Homo sapiens: one gene and its partners. The protein of the gene in region 2 interacts with the protein of the main gene of each other region in a pairwise test. Each region holds a gene or a part of one and is shown on either strand. Other genes may lie near its edges.

The links. Proteins that work in one complex are often made in the same cells at the same time.
Region 1: the proteins of KLHL6 (region 2) and NUDCD3 interact in binary tests that used the Homo sapiens proteins (3 or more experiments, as listed by UniProt).
Region 3: the proteins of KLHL6 (region 2) and SBDS interact in binary tests that used the Homo sapiens proteins (3 or more experiments, as listed by UniProt).

What each region holds. Positions count from the first base shown.
Region 1 is NC_000007.14:44,378,586-44,382,666, forward strand, and holds the end of NUDCD3 (nudC domain-containing protein 3), read right to left. Parts: 3' UTR 534-4,081; downstream 1-533.
Region 2 is NC_000003.12:183,489,668-183,496,708, forward strand, and holds part of KLHL6 (kelch-like protein 6), read right to left. Parts: intron 4,615-7,041; coding exon 4,412-4,614; exon of another isoform or gene 3,041-4,411; coding exon 2,827-3,040; exon of another isoform or gene 2,562-2,826; coding exon 2,260-2,561; 3' UTR 1-2,259. UniProt on the Homo sapiens protein: Involved in B-lymphocyte antigen receptor signaling and germinal center formation.
Region 3 is NC_000007.14:66,987,147-66,992,594, forward strand, and holds the end of SBDS (ribosome maturation protein SBDS), read right to left. Parts: intron 4,156-5,448; coding exon 3,991-4,155; intron 1,354-3,990; coding exon 1,225-1,353; 3' UTR 534-1,224; downstream 1-533. UniProt on the Homo sapiens protein: Required for the assembly of mature ribosomes and ribosome biogenesis.

The sequences.
Region 1 (4,081 bases), on a different chromosome or scaffold from region 2:
TGGAATAAATACAACTTGCAAAGGGTTGTATTCAGAACATTCCTACAAGTCAACAATAAAAGACAAACAGCTTAGTAGAATAAATGGTGAAAAATAGAAACAAAATTCACAGAAGGAACCTGAATGCCTAATAAAAATATAAATGGGAGTTCAACCTCACCATGACAAGGGAAATGCATGGGCAATCCAACTTTACACTCAGCATGACTGCAAACATTACAGAGTCCATTAAAATGGTGAGGAGCTGAGCAACAAGACCCACTCGCAGGAGGGGTACAGAGGATGCCCTGTGACCCCGCAACTCCACTCACAGGAAATGCCTAGGGAATCTCTCACACTTGAGAATGACTGCTGCATTGTTGTAATATTGAGAAATTGGGGCCAACCTAAGTACTCACCAACAGGATGTTGTTAAATAAACTGTGATATCTACTCAATGGAATATCACACCCCACCTAGGGGAGCAGAGGAGACTGTGTATGGACACAGACAGCTCATGAAGGTAAGGGAGAAAGAAAAGCAACTCACAAAGATACTGATTTATACGGTTTACAAATACACGTACAGTGAAAAATGACACCATCAAGCCAGGCACAGTGGTGCACACTTACAGTCCCAGCTACTTGGGAGGCTGAAGCAGGAGGATCACTTGAGCCCAGAGGTTTGAGTCCAGTCTGGGCAACACAGGAAAAACTCTGTCTCAAAAAAAAAAAAAACTTTTAAAATGACCATATCATGGAAAATTCTGGAGAGCAGTTATCTTGGGACAGAGATGAGGCAGTTGGCGGGGCGGGGCGGGGTGGGGGGGAACAGGGGACAGGGGTGGTCACAGGAGTCCTAGCTGCTCTGAAGTCGTGAGTGGGGACAGCAGAGCCTGTTCAGGAGGCTGCTGACTGTCCAGGGCTTTGCTGAGTGCCTGGCTCTGCCAATGGGAGGTTACCAGCAGGAGAGCCTGGAGTGTCGAGGAGTCACCACGGCCCTGCACTCAGTTAATGCTCTACTGTTGCTGTCTGGATATCACTTGACTTTTGGGTGTGGTTGGTGTTGCTTTAAGTTTCTGGGGATAGCAAAAGCTTAAGAAGTGACTCTTGCCATCACATGGCTGACCACCTCTGGTGAGAACACTGGAGAATAGTTTAGGGGTGCCCGAGTTTCCCCCACTGCATAGAGCCTGGTGCCAGGGAAGACAGGCTGGACCTGGCTGTGGCCCCTTGAATGGTGGCAGGGAGACCACAGCACATCGCAGGGCCCTGAGGATGACGTGTATTTGAGGGGGCAGGGTTCTCCAGTAGCAGGTGTTGCACAGTGGGGAATGGTGGGTGCAGAGCTGGGTTAGTTTTAGCAGAGGTGTGAAGGTGATTCCTCTCTGAGCTGGAGGTGGAAGCAAATGGGAAAACGGTCTGGCATAAACAGACAAGCCCCGGGGAGGCAGACAGCGTCCACCACTACCAGGTCCACCTGCTTTAGGTATACCTTCCTACCAGGACATGAGAGCCCACAGTGGCTGGGGTCTTGTCATCAGGCACCCTGAATGCTTTCAGGTGGATGGTTTGGATCTCTCCTCACCTGGCTGGTCAGGCCAGGGAGGACAAGCTGTGGACCTAACAGGTGACCACTGTCCAGACAAGGCCTATTCTACCTCCTTGCCTGGCTGTCCCCTCCTTAGGCCTGTTGCCCCTTCCTCTCTAGACCCTCTGCCTGCCAGGTGTGTAAGCCTTTCTGCCTGGACAGCCTCATTGAGACAGCCCTAGACTAACAGTCACCCATATTGAGCCCAAGCCCACCCTGCATGATGCCAAGCTTAGAAATGTCACCCTGGAGTCACAAAATCCCTTCTTTGCATTACCAAAAGAGGTGGTCACTCAGGGGTGCTGGAATCTTCCCCACCTTAAGGCTTAGCTCCAGTCTGTAGCCCATTCCCTGACAGGTACCTGGGTTTCCCAGCCTTTGATGACCCCAAACGCTGTCTCTTCCCTAAGGGTCACTGCCTTGGGATTTGCCTGCAGGCTAGGCACACCTGGTAAATGAGGTCTCCACACACTGGGTCATTAGTACCCACAAGCAATCACTGTTGAGTTCATGAACTCTCAGGCTGGAGCTCAGCAGTCCCACTAGGGACCACCACTGGGGTCACAAGATGGCCTTGATCCCCAGTTATCTGGATCCCCAGTTCCCTGAACCAGAGCAGCTTCCTAAACTCCCTAGTCCAGCAGAGGTTAGGGCTCGCTTTCCCTGCTAGAGGGGCCTCCTCCAAACCCCACAGTGCCCCAACAACACTTCCTGTCCTCTGGTAGACCCTTACCTGCCTGTGTCTTGCACAAAGTGCACACTGGGAGGCAAGAGCCTGTCTCTGCAGTAAGAAGGGCTTGGGGCAGTGCTCCGCTGGCAGGCAGACAAGGCAGGCAGGGCCCCAGCCCAATGCCTGAGTCAGCAGGCTCCTAACAGCCTGAGTGACCTCCTCATAGCATGGGGTCAGTGCAGCGGCAATGTCTGGGTTGTTGAGGGTTTTGATGGGTGATCAATGCTGGAGGATCCTCCCTCTGCCTTCCCCATCCAACACAGATCATCTCCAATGTGCCAGACCTGTGCTGGGCAACAAGGTTGGCTGAGATGGCCTGAGACAGGGTCCCTTGATGAACAGTCCACTGGGAATGGGGCCTGCAGTGGCCCTGGATGATTTCAGTATCTGCCACTCACCTTGGTCATGATGCCACAGAGAGTGTGGCATGGCCAGGACTGTACCTGGGGCAGATGGTCTTGCTCTTTGGTTCTGGGGAGGAGCGCAAAGTGACTGGGCTCAGGTGAAGGAGCTGTTGGCTTATGAGGAGGCTGCTCCAAGAAGCAAATAGGAGACAAGGAACCACTGGCCTGCAGATGGGGCAGGATCCTGGACCTGGGCCCCCCGAGTCACCAGCCACATGGCCTTGGGAGTGTTACTTACTCCTGTGATTGTAGCACAATGAGGGGTTAGACTACAAAGTCCCTCAGGCCCTGACCAGCTCTGGGGAAGAAGGCCTAGGACTGAGAGAGGCAGCAGGGAGGCTGGCCAGGGTCACCTCCCAGGTCCAGGCAGCTTTCCTGCAAGTGTTTCCTAAGCTGTCCTTCTCCAGGGAGAATAGCCTCAGCCCTGCCTGACAGGAGGCGGCATACACCTGAGCGCCTGACAGTACCCTCGTGAACCTGCCTGAGGGTGGCCACATTCCCACACCCCATGTGTGCCTATCTCCATCAGCACTGAGAAGACAGCAAACGCCAGCTTGCCAGGGGTTTACCCAGAAAGCCCAGCGCATACCCCCAGAGTGTTCTGGCAGACCTGTGCCAGCTGGGTTCAGTGACAGTTCATCCTGCCATGGGCTCTGGTCTCCCCATCACCCTCTGAGGGGGAAGCAGGAAGTTGTGAGGGGTAGCCGGGCCTGACCTCTCTTCCCTGGCACGATGCTGTCTCCCTGTGCAAAGTGGGGACTTCAGGCATTTGGTGTGGAGGAATGGGTGGTGGGATTGAAAACCCCTACCAGACCCCTGTCACACCAAGGAGCCCAGCGATGGGGGGGTTTCTTCCCTCCCTCTGAGGTAAGACCAATCTGTTAAACTTTCAGTACTAAAAAATAAAACCGAGTGGGAGGAAGGTGAGGACTGAAAAACTACATATCAGGTATCATGCTGATTACCTGGGTGACAAAATTATCTGTACACCAAACCCCTATGATCCAATTTACCCATGTAACAACCCTTGAACCTAAAGTTGGAAAGAAAAAAAAAGGTAAAATTAACAAATCCATATTAGTGTGAGCTGGGTGAGTAGTTTAGTCTGAAATGACAGAATATTCATTTTTCGTCTCTCTGAGATAGTGACCACACTGTCCTCACCAGGACTGGCAGGGGAAGCCCCAGGGCTTTGTGACCCTGTCCCTATGGGGCACCCTGGCGTCCAGTGGGCACTCCCCAGGGCAGCAGCCTGGTTTAAATGCCTGTTCCCCAGACCCCACAGTCAGACGGTAGAGAGGAGCCTCAGGGACATAGCCCAGTTCTTCAGGACCGTGGGCCACATGGGCTGCTTGACCTCTGACCACCAAGGAGGGAG
Region 2 (7,041 bases):
AAATTCCACAAATATGTTTCTATTGCCCTGTGTTACTTTCCACAGCAGAGAGCTGAACTGTCACGCTTCTAAGGCACAGAGCATTTCACACACCAACATACATTTATATTTATCTTCAATAATCTGGCATAAACAGAAATCTCACCTGTAATTTTTCAAGTTTTTAAAATCTGTTTCAAATATTAGCTTCTTCTAACCGTGACTGTTTAATGAAAATTCAATTCACTATCAACTCTAATAACTAACTTCCCAAACTGCTGAAAAGAACAAGCCACACCGGATATGAAATAAAACTCTATAAAGAGAATTGAAATCATATGATGAAAATAAAGTCCATTGGGTAACGCAGTTACTATGTTGTTATCATTGTTGCTTTTTAAATACAGCATATGAAACAGGATCTCTTAACCTGTTTCTCCAGCTTGGGGATTAGAATGAATTTCCAGTGAGCTCATTTGAAAGCTGTAGCTCTTACAGTGAAGGACAGATTCTGTTCTTTAAGTCACAATTGAGCTACACTGATCAAAAAACCAAGTAGAAGTGCTTTTTAAAAGTCTTGAAAACGAAGGCTTCAGGAGGATGGGGTATCAGGAACGTGGACCTAAATCACTGTGTAAAAACTAGAAAGTGTACCATCAAGGAGAATCTGTCGCTCCTGTGTAGGCCAGCTGTGCTCAGGTGTTTACTTTTTTAATAAAACAGTAGTTTGAGTCTCTAGAGACATCTTGTCTATATTGCAGTACAACTGGTGAACACTAAGAGGCCAGGGCACCAGAATGTGCTAAAGGTACAATTCTGTCTGGCAATGACAGTTCCGGTCCAAAATGGGCCATCTTATGATCATTTAAAAAAAAAAAGACCGGGCCCAGTGGCTCACACCTGTAATCCCAGCACTTCGGGAGGCCGAGGCGGGCAGATCACAAGGTCAGGCGTTCAAGACCAGCCTGGCCAAGATGGTGAAACCCCGTCTCTACTAAAACTACAAAAATTAGCCAGGCGCGGTGGCAGGTGCCTGTAATCCCAGCTACTCAGGAGGCTGAGGCAGGAAAATCACTTGAACCAGGGTGACAGAGGTTGCAGTGAGCCGAGATCATGCCACTGCACTCCAGCCTGGGCGACTTCATCTCAAAAAAAAAAAAAAGAGGGTTTCAATGGGAGGAGGACAGAACACAAGTATTTCATCTCTTTCAAAGCAAACAGGCCTTCCCAAGCCCATCCCCCAGACCTTTCAAGTGGAAGAACCTATGAGATGTTCTTGGCAAGGAGCCCAAATGACTCCTTGGTTTAAATATTGGTAAAGGGCGGGGACGAGGGAGGATGCAGAATAAGAAAGAAAAGGAAAGAAAGCAGGAAACACCTTTATTTCCCTGCTGTGCTGAGTGAATCTTTTAGCAGACTTGCCGAAACAAGAAATGAGCCAGGTTTCTTTGTTTTTGTTTTTGTTTTTGTTTTTGTTTTGAAGACAGAGCTTCACTTTTGTTTCCCGGGCTGCAGTGCAGTGTGGCGATCTCGGCTCACTGCAACCTCCACCTCCCAAGTTCAAGTGATCCTCCTGCCTCAGCCTCCTGAGTAGCTGGAATTACAGGCGCCTGCCACTGCACGCGGCTAATTTTTGTATTTTTAGTAGAGACGGGGCGGTCTCACCATGTTGGCCAGGCTGGTCTTGAACTCCTGACCTCAGGTCATCCGCCCGCCTCAGCCTCCCATAGGGCTGGGATTACAGGCGTGAGCCGCCACGCCCAGCAAGAGCCAGGTTTTGTTGTTGTTTTTTGTTTGTTTTTCCTGCTCTGAGATAGGCAGCATGGTGGAAAGAGCATTGACTTCGGAGATGAAAGACCTGGATTTTAGACTCCTGGGGTAGCTACTTGCTATCTGAGTGATCAGGGGCACGCCACTTAGCCTCTGTGAAACTTGGTTCCCTCACCTGTAAACTAGAAGTGATAAGAGCCAGTCACCAGGTTAAATGAACCGATAAAAGGAAGTGCCTGGCACAGAAGCCGGCATAGGGTGGGTGGGTCCTGAATGCTAAATATTACTCTTCCTCGCCTCCCCTCCTGAGGTAGGTCATGCAAACATTCCTGGCCGGTCTCAAGTGACCCCAAACTGTGACTTCCAAGGTTCCCCCAAAGTGAGTCAAGGGGATCCCCTGATGTATGGCCTCAAACTCGAGCCTGCTGCCTGAAGTGGGACTGGAGGAGGGTGAGAGGTGAGGCGGGTACGCTGAGGGTCGGGGGGGCTCTCCAGCTCCCCATCCTGCCGTCAGACAGACACTGCTCCGGGCACGATCCTGCGGATGTGGGTGTACGACTTCCTGATGGTGACGCTGCCGTGGTGCGACACGCCCCGGGGCAGGACGCACTCCTCTGTCAGTTTCTGGGCCTCGGGGTCCCAGCACAGCACCGTGGCGATAACCTCGTTCTTCTCGTCCCGCCCGCCGGTGATGTAGAGCCGGTTGTTGCAGGGCGCGATACCGCAGCTGGCCCGCTCGTGGCTGAGCTGGGTCACCAGGCACCAGCTGTCTTCCAGCGGGCTGTAGGCGTACAGCGCTCTCATGGCCCCACCTGAGGAGAGGGAGGAAACACGGTGGGCATCGCTCCATTTTTCTGGTTTCTTCCCTCTTAACCACTAAAATTCAACTTCTGATTAGGCCAAGTCTACCCTCTTGCCAAGAGAAACAGTCGATTGATGGCTCTCCTGAAAGCCAGAGTGGGTCCTAGGGGCAGTGAGTTGCCAGCGCTGGAGACACCGCGACACACCGTTTACGTGCTGCAGCCAGGCGCTCATCAGGTTCTAAGCCATTCAGACCAATAAGAAGCCATTACTCACCAACGACATAGATGCGGTCCCGGAAACTCACTGCATTGATGCATTTAGCCTCCACGGGCATGGCCGCCTTCAAACTCCACTTGTTGGTGGAAGGGTCATAACACTGAGTCTTGTCTGTGGCCAGTTTCCCATTGGGCCCTCCCCCGATCACATACAGCTTCTTCTTATGGCTGGTGGCTGCAAAGGAACTGACATGGACAAGGAGGGGTGCGGCCTGTAGAGGCACAGGGCACAAGAAGAAGCTGTCAGTCATGCTGCCCAGATTGCTGCAGTAGCTCCCAGGATACAGGACAGAGCTCCGGGACACAGAACTGGGCATCTTTTGCCTATAGTCACAAGGCCCATGGGCTTGACTCCTCTTAAGACACAGCAAGAATGAAAGCATGCATTTCCCACCCTCCCTCCAGGCTCCACGCAAGCTAGAGCAAGCTGTGTGTTGGGATGTGCCAGCCTCTCCCGGAATCCAGCTCTCAGGCAAGAATAAGTTTATACAGATGAAGTCAGCCAGTGTGGGAGGAAAATGATGTTTTATACATGCATATTCATATTCATTCATGTGCTCATCCACTCGAAAAATATTTATGGAATGCCTACTATGTACCAGCATTGATTTTCCTTGGTGCTTATATCTAGGAAGAAAAGCTGAAACGGTGGCCACAGGTAAGCAGACTCTTCCATTATGGGGCAGCATTGAGGATTTTGAGATTAAGTCAGACGTGTGCTTCTATCCTGTGAACCCCAGGACAGTAAAGGAGACTTCCAAGAGCCTCTTGCCCATTTATTTACAGGATCCTTTTAGATCGTGGAGCAGCTCTGTGATAGGGCTTGTTTTGAGAAGATCCTGGGCATGTCCCCCATACATGTTAAGGGCTCTCAATATAGCACTTTTCAGGCTGACAGTCTTGGCTAGATGTGGTGACCTGGCTACCTTTGCTTGTGCCTACAATGACTGTGTTGTACATTCCATTAAGCTGGAACATGCTTGGACATCTGATCTGATAAGGAGAAAGAAAATTTGAAACTGGGAATAACCTGGAAATGAGATGAGGTGGCTTTTCTTTTCCTGGGTCTGATATATACCTGAGGTTGCATTACTAAAGTCTGACATGCAGGCCTGTAAGTGGCTCATCATCCATGGGAAAATAAAGAAGGGATGATTTCTAACATGACCAAATCACTCTGGGTTCATAAACGGTGTAGTAAAGTGATCCGCATGTGTCCAGTGTGGAGAAGAATAGGAGAGAAGGCATCTGAGGAGACAAGACTCTACACCAAGACATGCAGACCAAGAGATCTCCCATCTAAGGACAGGGTGAGCCTCTGTGCACATCTGGGGTTCTGTCCAAATTAGGACAGGTGCCCACACAGACCTTCACCACTTGGAAGGACATTGTTTCTGTGACTTGATCAGCAATACTGAAGCAATAGCTCCTAGGAGGAGGGAAGCTCAGAGCCACCAAAACTGTTCTCCTTGGAAGTAAAGTGATCAGAAAGCTGACCACCACGGCAGGCACGTTCCAAAGCTTTTTAAAAAAGCACTGAAGTAATAATACAGGCAGTTACTGGTAGAAATCGTGTCCTATACCTCTGACCAGCAGTTGTGAAAGGGGTCGTAGGTCTCCACATTGTTGATTCTCTGTAAGCCGTCAAAGCCTCCGATCACATAGACCTTGCCACCCAACACCACCATCTTATGCCTCCAGCGGCCTATGTTTAAATACTCAATCTGAATCCACTTGTTGATCGAAGAATTATATTTCCAAACATCATGCTGTGTTTCTTTGCCACCTGCAAGAGATACAAAGCATTTAAGAAACCATCAGATGTGTCAGAAATACAGCTTCTCCCATAATATCCCACATGTCCAAAAGTGCCAGGTCCCCAGGCCAGCCCTACCCTGAGGGGAGATACAAGAAACCCAGCAGGTGTGTGATGTCTGGCAGGGGAGATGAGGCAAATGCAGGGGAACAGGGAGAGACAGAATGGATGATGTGCCACACTGTGTCATGTCCACCTCAGTGCTGCGAGAGTTCAGAGAAGAGGTGGCTAAGTGAGCAGTGCCCTGAGAAGGCTTCAGGGGGCAGGACCCAAGCCAGCCTGGGTGGGTAGGGACCAGAGGGAGCCTGGACTCAGTGTTTGCCCTCACAGGGAGCAGGAAGCAAGGCTGGGCGGGGACAGTGGGGTTTGTGCAGAAGGCAAATTACATGGCAGCTTAAATTCTATGTTTACTTTTTATTTAAACCAAAAAGCAAAGATACAGACCTGGAAAAATCACTAAGAAATCCTACAACATTCTCCTGGTTTGTCGCTCTGATCTGTTTAAAACAATCAGTGGGATTTATCCTATTTCTAAATAATTTTTGTTATAAAAGTATGAGATGCTCACAATAGATCATTTGAGAGTGATCTGGTAAACATTTTCTTGAAGGCAACTCTCTTAAAAAACAGAAAATACAAAATTCAGCAGCTGGGGAAAGAGACAAAGACAAAGGAGAACTGACTTTTTGGGTGATTTTAATCAAATATTTAACAGCTTTGTGTTTCCATTTTCCCATCAGCATAGACTACCACCAACTACTTAAAGCAAAGATTTACTTTTCAGACTTACATGTGTGCAATAGTGGAGAAATGAACATTACTGACCACATTCTGTGTCAGGGGTGTTTCTCTAGCATGGAACCCAGAAGTGGGTTTACTAAGTCAAAGCCATGTGCACCCTGAATTTTTATAGGTGCAGCCAAGGCATCCTCCGCAGCTGTGGTGGTTGACTTTTCCTCATACCCACTTTTTGTTGGTGGTGGTGGTTTTGTTTTCTTTCTTTTATTTATTTATTTTTTTGAAGTCTGACGGAAAAAAACTATGTCAGTTTGGTTTTCGCTTACTATGAGGGAAGCTGAGCTTCCTCTTCCTTGAATCTTTTGTTCATATAGTTTGGCTATTTTCCTTTGGGTGGGGTACCTTTCAGAGGTCTCCATTTATTCAAAACATTGATCCCATTTAGGTAGCATCAAAAAGTATAAAATAAATGTAAATTTTCAAAGAAATGTATGCAACCTTTATTAAAACCTATGATTTTATTTTAGGACAAAAAAAAAAAACCCTGAGAAAGCATATTGTGTGCATAAATCAGAAGACACCTTATTGTGAAGATGTCAACCCTCCCTAGGTTAATCTATATACTCAGTGCCTTCAAGACTTTTGAGGGGAACTTGATGAGATAATTCTAAATTTCACTGGGAAGAGTAAGTTTGGAAAAATTTCTAAGAAACTTTTGAAAAAGAAAAGGGAAGAAGGAGGCTTTCCTTATCAAATATTAAAATATACTATAAAGCTATCCTAATACAAACAGTGCAGTACTAGACAAACTGATCAGTTAAAAACAAGAGCACAGAAACGGACTAAAATATATACAGATCATTAAATAAATGTTATTAGAACAATTGGTTATTCATTTGGATAAAGATTAAGTTAGATACTTATTTTACATTACATTTAAAATAAAATTCAAATGTTACTGCTACAGAAGTAACTGGAAAATGTATAGGATATTATGTTAATGACCTTGGGGTTAGGAGGGGTTTTCTAAGCATGACATGAATGTAGAATTGTATAGGACAGAAAACAAGTATATAAAGGTAAAAAACAACCACAGTCTAGGAGAAAATATTTGCAACACAAATAGCAAAGGATATATAAGAAGAGTTCCAAAAAATTAGTAAGAACAAGACAAAAACTGATAGGAAGTGTCAAAGAGTATGAACAGATAATTTTTAAAAATAAATACAATTATCTGGTAAATATATATTTACCATTCTAGTCTATTAAAAATTTAAATGACTAATAATAAAAATCGTTAGCAAGGATATAGAAAATGAGCACTGTCATTCATCACTGATTGAACTGTAAATTGGTACAACTTTTCTGTAGGAAAATTTCACAATATATACAAAATTCTTAATTCACATATGACCACTTCCAGGAAACTTTCCAAGTAGCAGCACAAGTATGAAAAAATATGTGTCTAAGAATGCCTACTGCAATATTTTTTAAGGAGACCAAAAAAAGAAAGCTAAAAAAATTATGGTTTATCCATTTGGTAGACTGCCATATAGCTGGTAAAAAGAATAACAGTAGTGATAATACTGGCCAACATAATTAAGCTCCCACCATGTGCTTTGCATGTAATAACTATATCACTTGATATGTATATCCATT
Region 3 (5,448 bases), on a different chromosome or scaffold from region 2:
TTTGAAATAGATTTTTTTTCTTTTTTTTGGAGACCGAGTTTCACTCTGTCACCTAGACTGGAGTGCAGTGGCACATTCTCAGCTCATTGCAACCTCTGCCTCCTGGGTTCAAGTGATTCTCCTGCTTCAGCCTCCCGAGTAGCTGGGACTACAGGCGTGCACCACCATGCCTGGCTAATTTTTGTATTTTTAGTAGAGACAGGGTTTCACCATGTGGGTCAGGCTGGTCTCAAACTCCTGACCTCAGGTGATCCGCCTGCCTCGGCCTCCCAAAGTGTTGGGATTGCAGGTGTGAGTCACCTCCCCTGGCCTTGAAGTAGATTTTTAAAAGCTTGCATCTTGTCCATTTAAGTGTTTAAATACTAAAATAATTCTTCCCAATTACATCCCAAGTGTTAGCAAAAATTTTTCAGGTGTTTACAAGTACAGGCCCTGTTCTAAGCACTCTTCATATGGACTTATTCAGTTCTCCTGACAACTCCCTAACCCTACCACAGACACAGGCAGAGAAAAGAAAGGGAGTTAGGAAGTTGTCTAGAAACACAAGCCATAGTTTAATAAACATAAGAGTGGTTTTATTGATTACATACAATTTTAGCTATATTAATATATATTATAAACTTTAAGAATTAGAAATAAGTGACTTTTATTTTTTAACCAAGAATAATCTAAGTTATGGCAGCATGTTCAATGAAAGGTAAGTCCGGCACAATTTTTCTATATCTGTTTCTCAGATAATCAGGAACATCATCCAAGCTTTACATTACGATACCATAATGACCCTCAGAACACAAGTTCCATTAAGTAGAAATGAAGCATCATATGTTTTCTTTTTTAGGAAAGACCCCCCCTTTTGTTGTATAGACATACCCCTAATAATCTTACTCTACTGTACAAATAACTTTTCACCCACAAGAGCTGCCTCAAGTAACTTTCATTTTGGAAAGCTATCAAGGCATGAGACAGAGTAGCAAAATGCCACTCTGGACTTTGCATCTTGGAGTTTCAATTTTGCTTTAGGATTTAGACCCCAGTTTATAATTAAAACCAAATCATTCCCACATTATTATACTTATGTAGGAAAGCCTTGCTGTGTCCACTGTTAACACAAAGATAGAAAATGTCAAATAGTTTAAGCAAGTATTTGGCAGACCACAGACATGAAACAGTGCCGTCGGAAACGGAAACACTTTAGTGTTTTAGAGGTGAAGAGATTGATGGGTGTCATTCAAATTTCTCATCTCCTTCTTCTACATCTTTCAGATTGAGTACTTCCAAAGAACCTTTGCCTTTAGTTTCCTTTTTTATTAGCTCATCAATTTCTCGGAAGCAGCCCGGGTCAATCAGACATACCTGAAACATTTAACGTAGCAGATTACCACATGAGGATGAGCAAGACACAGAATAAACTCAGCTTTAACTTCCTTTGAGGCAAGCACAATGCTGTCCAGATCTCTAATAATACCACAGTTCTATGGTGCAATAGATAAGACAATGGGTAGGGCGGCACACTGGGTTCCAGTTTAGCCTCTGCCCTCAAGTGTCCATGTAGCCCCCTGTGACAAGGCATTAATCCCTATGTTTAAACACTTATTCTGATTCTTCAGCTGTAAATGGAAGGGACAAACTAGAAAACTCTGATTCTTCTCATACTAAAATTTAGCATTACATTTTATAGCTCAGTAAAGTCACCTCCACGTATGAAGGAGAAAAAGCAATGTGAAGACTTATGTAGACACCATGTGTATGTTAATTTATTTTTTTTTGAGATAGAGTGCAGTGGTGTGATCTTGGCTCACTGCAGCCTCCGCCTCCCAGGTTCAAGTGATTCTCCTGCCTCAGCCTCCCAAGAAACTGGGATTACAGGAACCCACCACCACACCTGGCTTATTTTTTGTATTTTTAGTAGAGATAGGGTTTCACCATGTTATCTGCTCACCTTGGCCTCCCAAAGTGCTGGGATTACAGGCACGAGCCACTGTGCCTGGCCCATGTGTACAGTTTTGCAAAGATTTTAGAACTTCAAGTAGTGTCAGATGAGTTAGTTCACATCTACAGTGGATACTCACATACTCAACACTTCTCTACAGCTCATTTACTTTTAAAAAGAAGCTGCAGACAGGGCGCGGTGGCTCAAGCCTGTAATCCCAGCACTTTGGGAGGCCGAGGCGGGTGGATCACCTGAGGTCGGGAGTTCGAGACCAGCCTGACCAACATGGAGAGACCCCGTCTCTACTAAAAATACAAAATTAGCTGGGCGAGGTGGCACATGCCTGTAATCCCAGCTACTCGGGAGGCTGAGGCAGGAGAATCGCTTGAACCCGGGAGGCAGAGGTTGCAGTGAGCTGAGATCACGCCATTGCACTCTAGCTTGGGCAATAAGAGTGAAACCCTGTCTCAAAAATAAATAAATAAATAAATAAATAAATAAGCTGCAAAGCCTTGAAAACATGAATTTGTAGACAGCTCAATTTACACTGTGTTTGAAGCTGTGGGGTGAGGTCATAAGGACATAATGGTTTCGCTGCTTCTTTAAAATGTTCTGTGTTTAGTGTCACCAGGTTCACACACTAATATCCTCTGGAAACACCCTCACAGACATACCCCAAACAATGCTTTATCAGGCTTCTAGGGATTCCTTTCCAGTCAAGTTGACACCTAAAATTACATCCACAATTCCACCCCTTATCAACTTGGCACCCAGACTCATCTCTTTAAACCATTTTTAATTTTCAAATGAAGACAATAACAAGGTCCTAGCTTTTCCTCACATGATGCAATTAACCAGACGCGACTATCCTGCATACAACTCAAAGAGTGCTAATCCTTTTGCCAGAATTCAGCTTTCAGAATTTCATCATTCAGAATTCAATCTTTTTTTTTTTTTTTTGAGATGGAGTTTCGCTCTTGTTGCCCAGGCTGGAGTGCAATGGTGCAATCTTGGCTCACCGCAACCTCTGCCTTCCAGGTTCAAGTGATTCTCCTGCCTCAGCCTCCCGAGTAGCTGGGATTACAGGCATGTGCCACCACGCCAGACTATTTTGTATTTTTAGTAGAGACAGGGTTTCTCCATGTTGGTCAGACTGGTCTCGAACTCCCGACCTCAGGTGATCCACCTGCCTTGGCCTCCCAAAGTGCTGGGATTACAGGCATGAGCCACCGCGCCCAGCCAGGATTCAATCTTTTGGAACTGTGATTTTCAAGATATTAGAAGTTCAGGCTTTGGACTTTAGAGATTTTGATTTTTTTATGATTTCAACATTGGGATTGTGGCATTTGGGATTGTCTTTTAGGATTATGATCAGCACTGGAGTAAAGCATGCAATTGAGCTATCTCTGAAAACTCAATGTAAATTTCCATAGTGTGCTTTGTACTAATTTTTGCAAAATTTTTAAGGTAATTGGAATTATCAATCTTCCACTAAAATAGCAATTTTTAAGTGGCTTATTTTAAATAGTTGCTAAATTTGCTAAAATCATGTATCTAAAACACTACGCATAATATATGACAAAAATAAATGCTGGGAAAAAAATAAAAGGATTTGTGGTAAACAAGGCTGACCAACCTTTAGTCTTAAGAAAATATCTGGCTGGGCGCGGTGGCTCACGCCTGTAATCCCTGCACTTTGGGAGGCTGAGGCAGGTGGATCATGAGGTCAGGAGATCAAGACCGTCCTGGCTAACACGGTGAAACTCCGTCTCTACTAAAAAATACGAAAAATTAGCCAGGCTTGGTGGCGGGTGCCTGTAGTCCCAGCTACACAGGAGGCTGAGGCAGGAGAATGGCGTGTACCCGGGAGGCGGAGCTTGCAGTGAGCTGAGATAGCACCACTGCACTCCAGCCTGGGCAACAGAGCGAGACTCCATCTCAAAAAAAAAAAAGAAAAGAAAATATCTGACGTTTACAACATCTAAATGTTTGCTACAAATTTATTACTAGAGAATACAATATTTAGGTAACATGAAGCAAAGAAAATATTTGACTCTTACGATTTCTAACTGTTGGCCATAATCTTCACTTTCTATGACCTTGATCAGTGGCTTGAGCTTTTCTTTCAGCTTCTTGCCTTCATTGACTGGAAGGATGAACCGAAGCCTCATGTGAGCACGTTCTATCTTCATTTTCTCTTTTAACTGCTTTATCACTTCCAAAGCCTACCAAGACAAAATCGAGAATGCAATTTCTTCTACTATATTATTTCATAAGGTTTTCAAAAACAAAGTAGTTTCCATGTAGTTGGATTAGGTAATGGTTTCTTAGGTATAACATTAAGAACATAAGTGACCGTTAAAAAAAAAATAGAAAAATTGGACTTATCAAGAAGAAAAGCTTTTGTGTTTCAAAAAACTATGAAGAAAGTGAAGGCCAGGTGTGGTGGCTCACGCCTGTAATTCCAGCACTTTGGGAGGCCGAGGCGGGTGCATCACAAGGTCAGGAATTCGAGACCAGCCTGGCCAACATGGTGAAACCCCGTCTCCACTAAAAATACAAAAAAAGAAAAATTAGCCGGGTGTGGTAGTGCACGCCTGTAATCCCAGCTACTCAAGAGGCTGAGGCAGGAGAATTGCTTGAATCCGGGAGGCAGAGTTTGCAAAAAGAGGGCGGGGGGGGTGGGCAAAGAACCTGAACAGAGATTTCTCAAAAGAAGACAGACGAGGCACCAATAAGCACATGGAAATATGCTCAAATCATCATTAAGGAAATGCAAATCAAAACCACGACAAGATACCACCAGGATGGCCATCATCAAAAAGGCAGACAATGACAAGTATTACTGAGGATGTGGAGAAACTGAACTCTTAAACACTGATGGTGGTAAAGTAAAATGGTGCAGCTGTTTTAGAAATAGGTTTGGTAGTCACCAGGTATACAGAAATGAAAACATATGTCTACACAGAAACATACAAGAAATTTTATAGCAGCATTGCTCATCATAGCTCAAAAGTGAAAGCAACCCAATGTCTATCAACTGATAGATGAATGAACAAAATGTGTTTCTTTCCGTACAGTGGGCTATTATTCCGGCATAAAAAAGAAATGACATGCTGATGCAGGTTACAACATGTATGAACCATGAAAAGGCCACATATTGTATGATTCCATTTATATGAAATGTCCAGAATTGAGAAGTCCATAACGAGAGGAGATTAGTGGTTGGGAGGGGCCTGTGGGGGGAAAATGGGGGATGGCTACTAATGGATACTGACTTTCTTTTTGTGGTGATGAAAATGTTCTCGAACCAGGTAGCAGGGAAGGTTCCAAAACTTTGTTAATATACCACTTAAAGTGTACATACTTTATGAGTGTGAAATTTATGGTATGTGAATTATATATAAATTAAAAAATTCAAAAAGAAGTGTTAAAATGACCCTTTAAAAACTCAAGTTTTGTCTTTAAAAGTTTGATTTGGATAGGAAGAAGAAAGTCCTATATACATATTTGTGTTT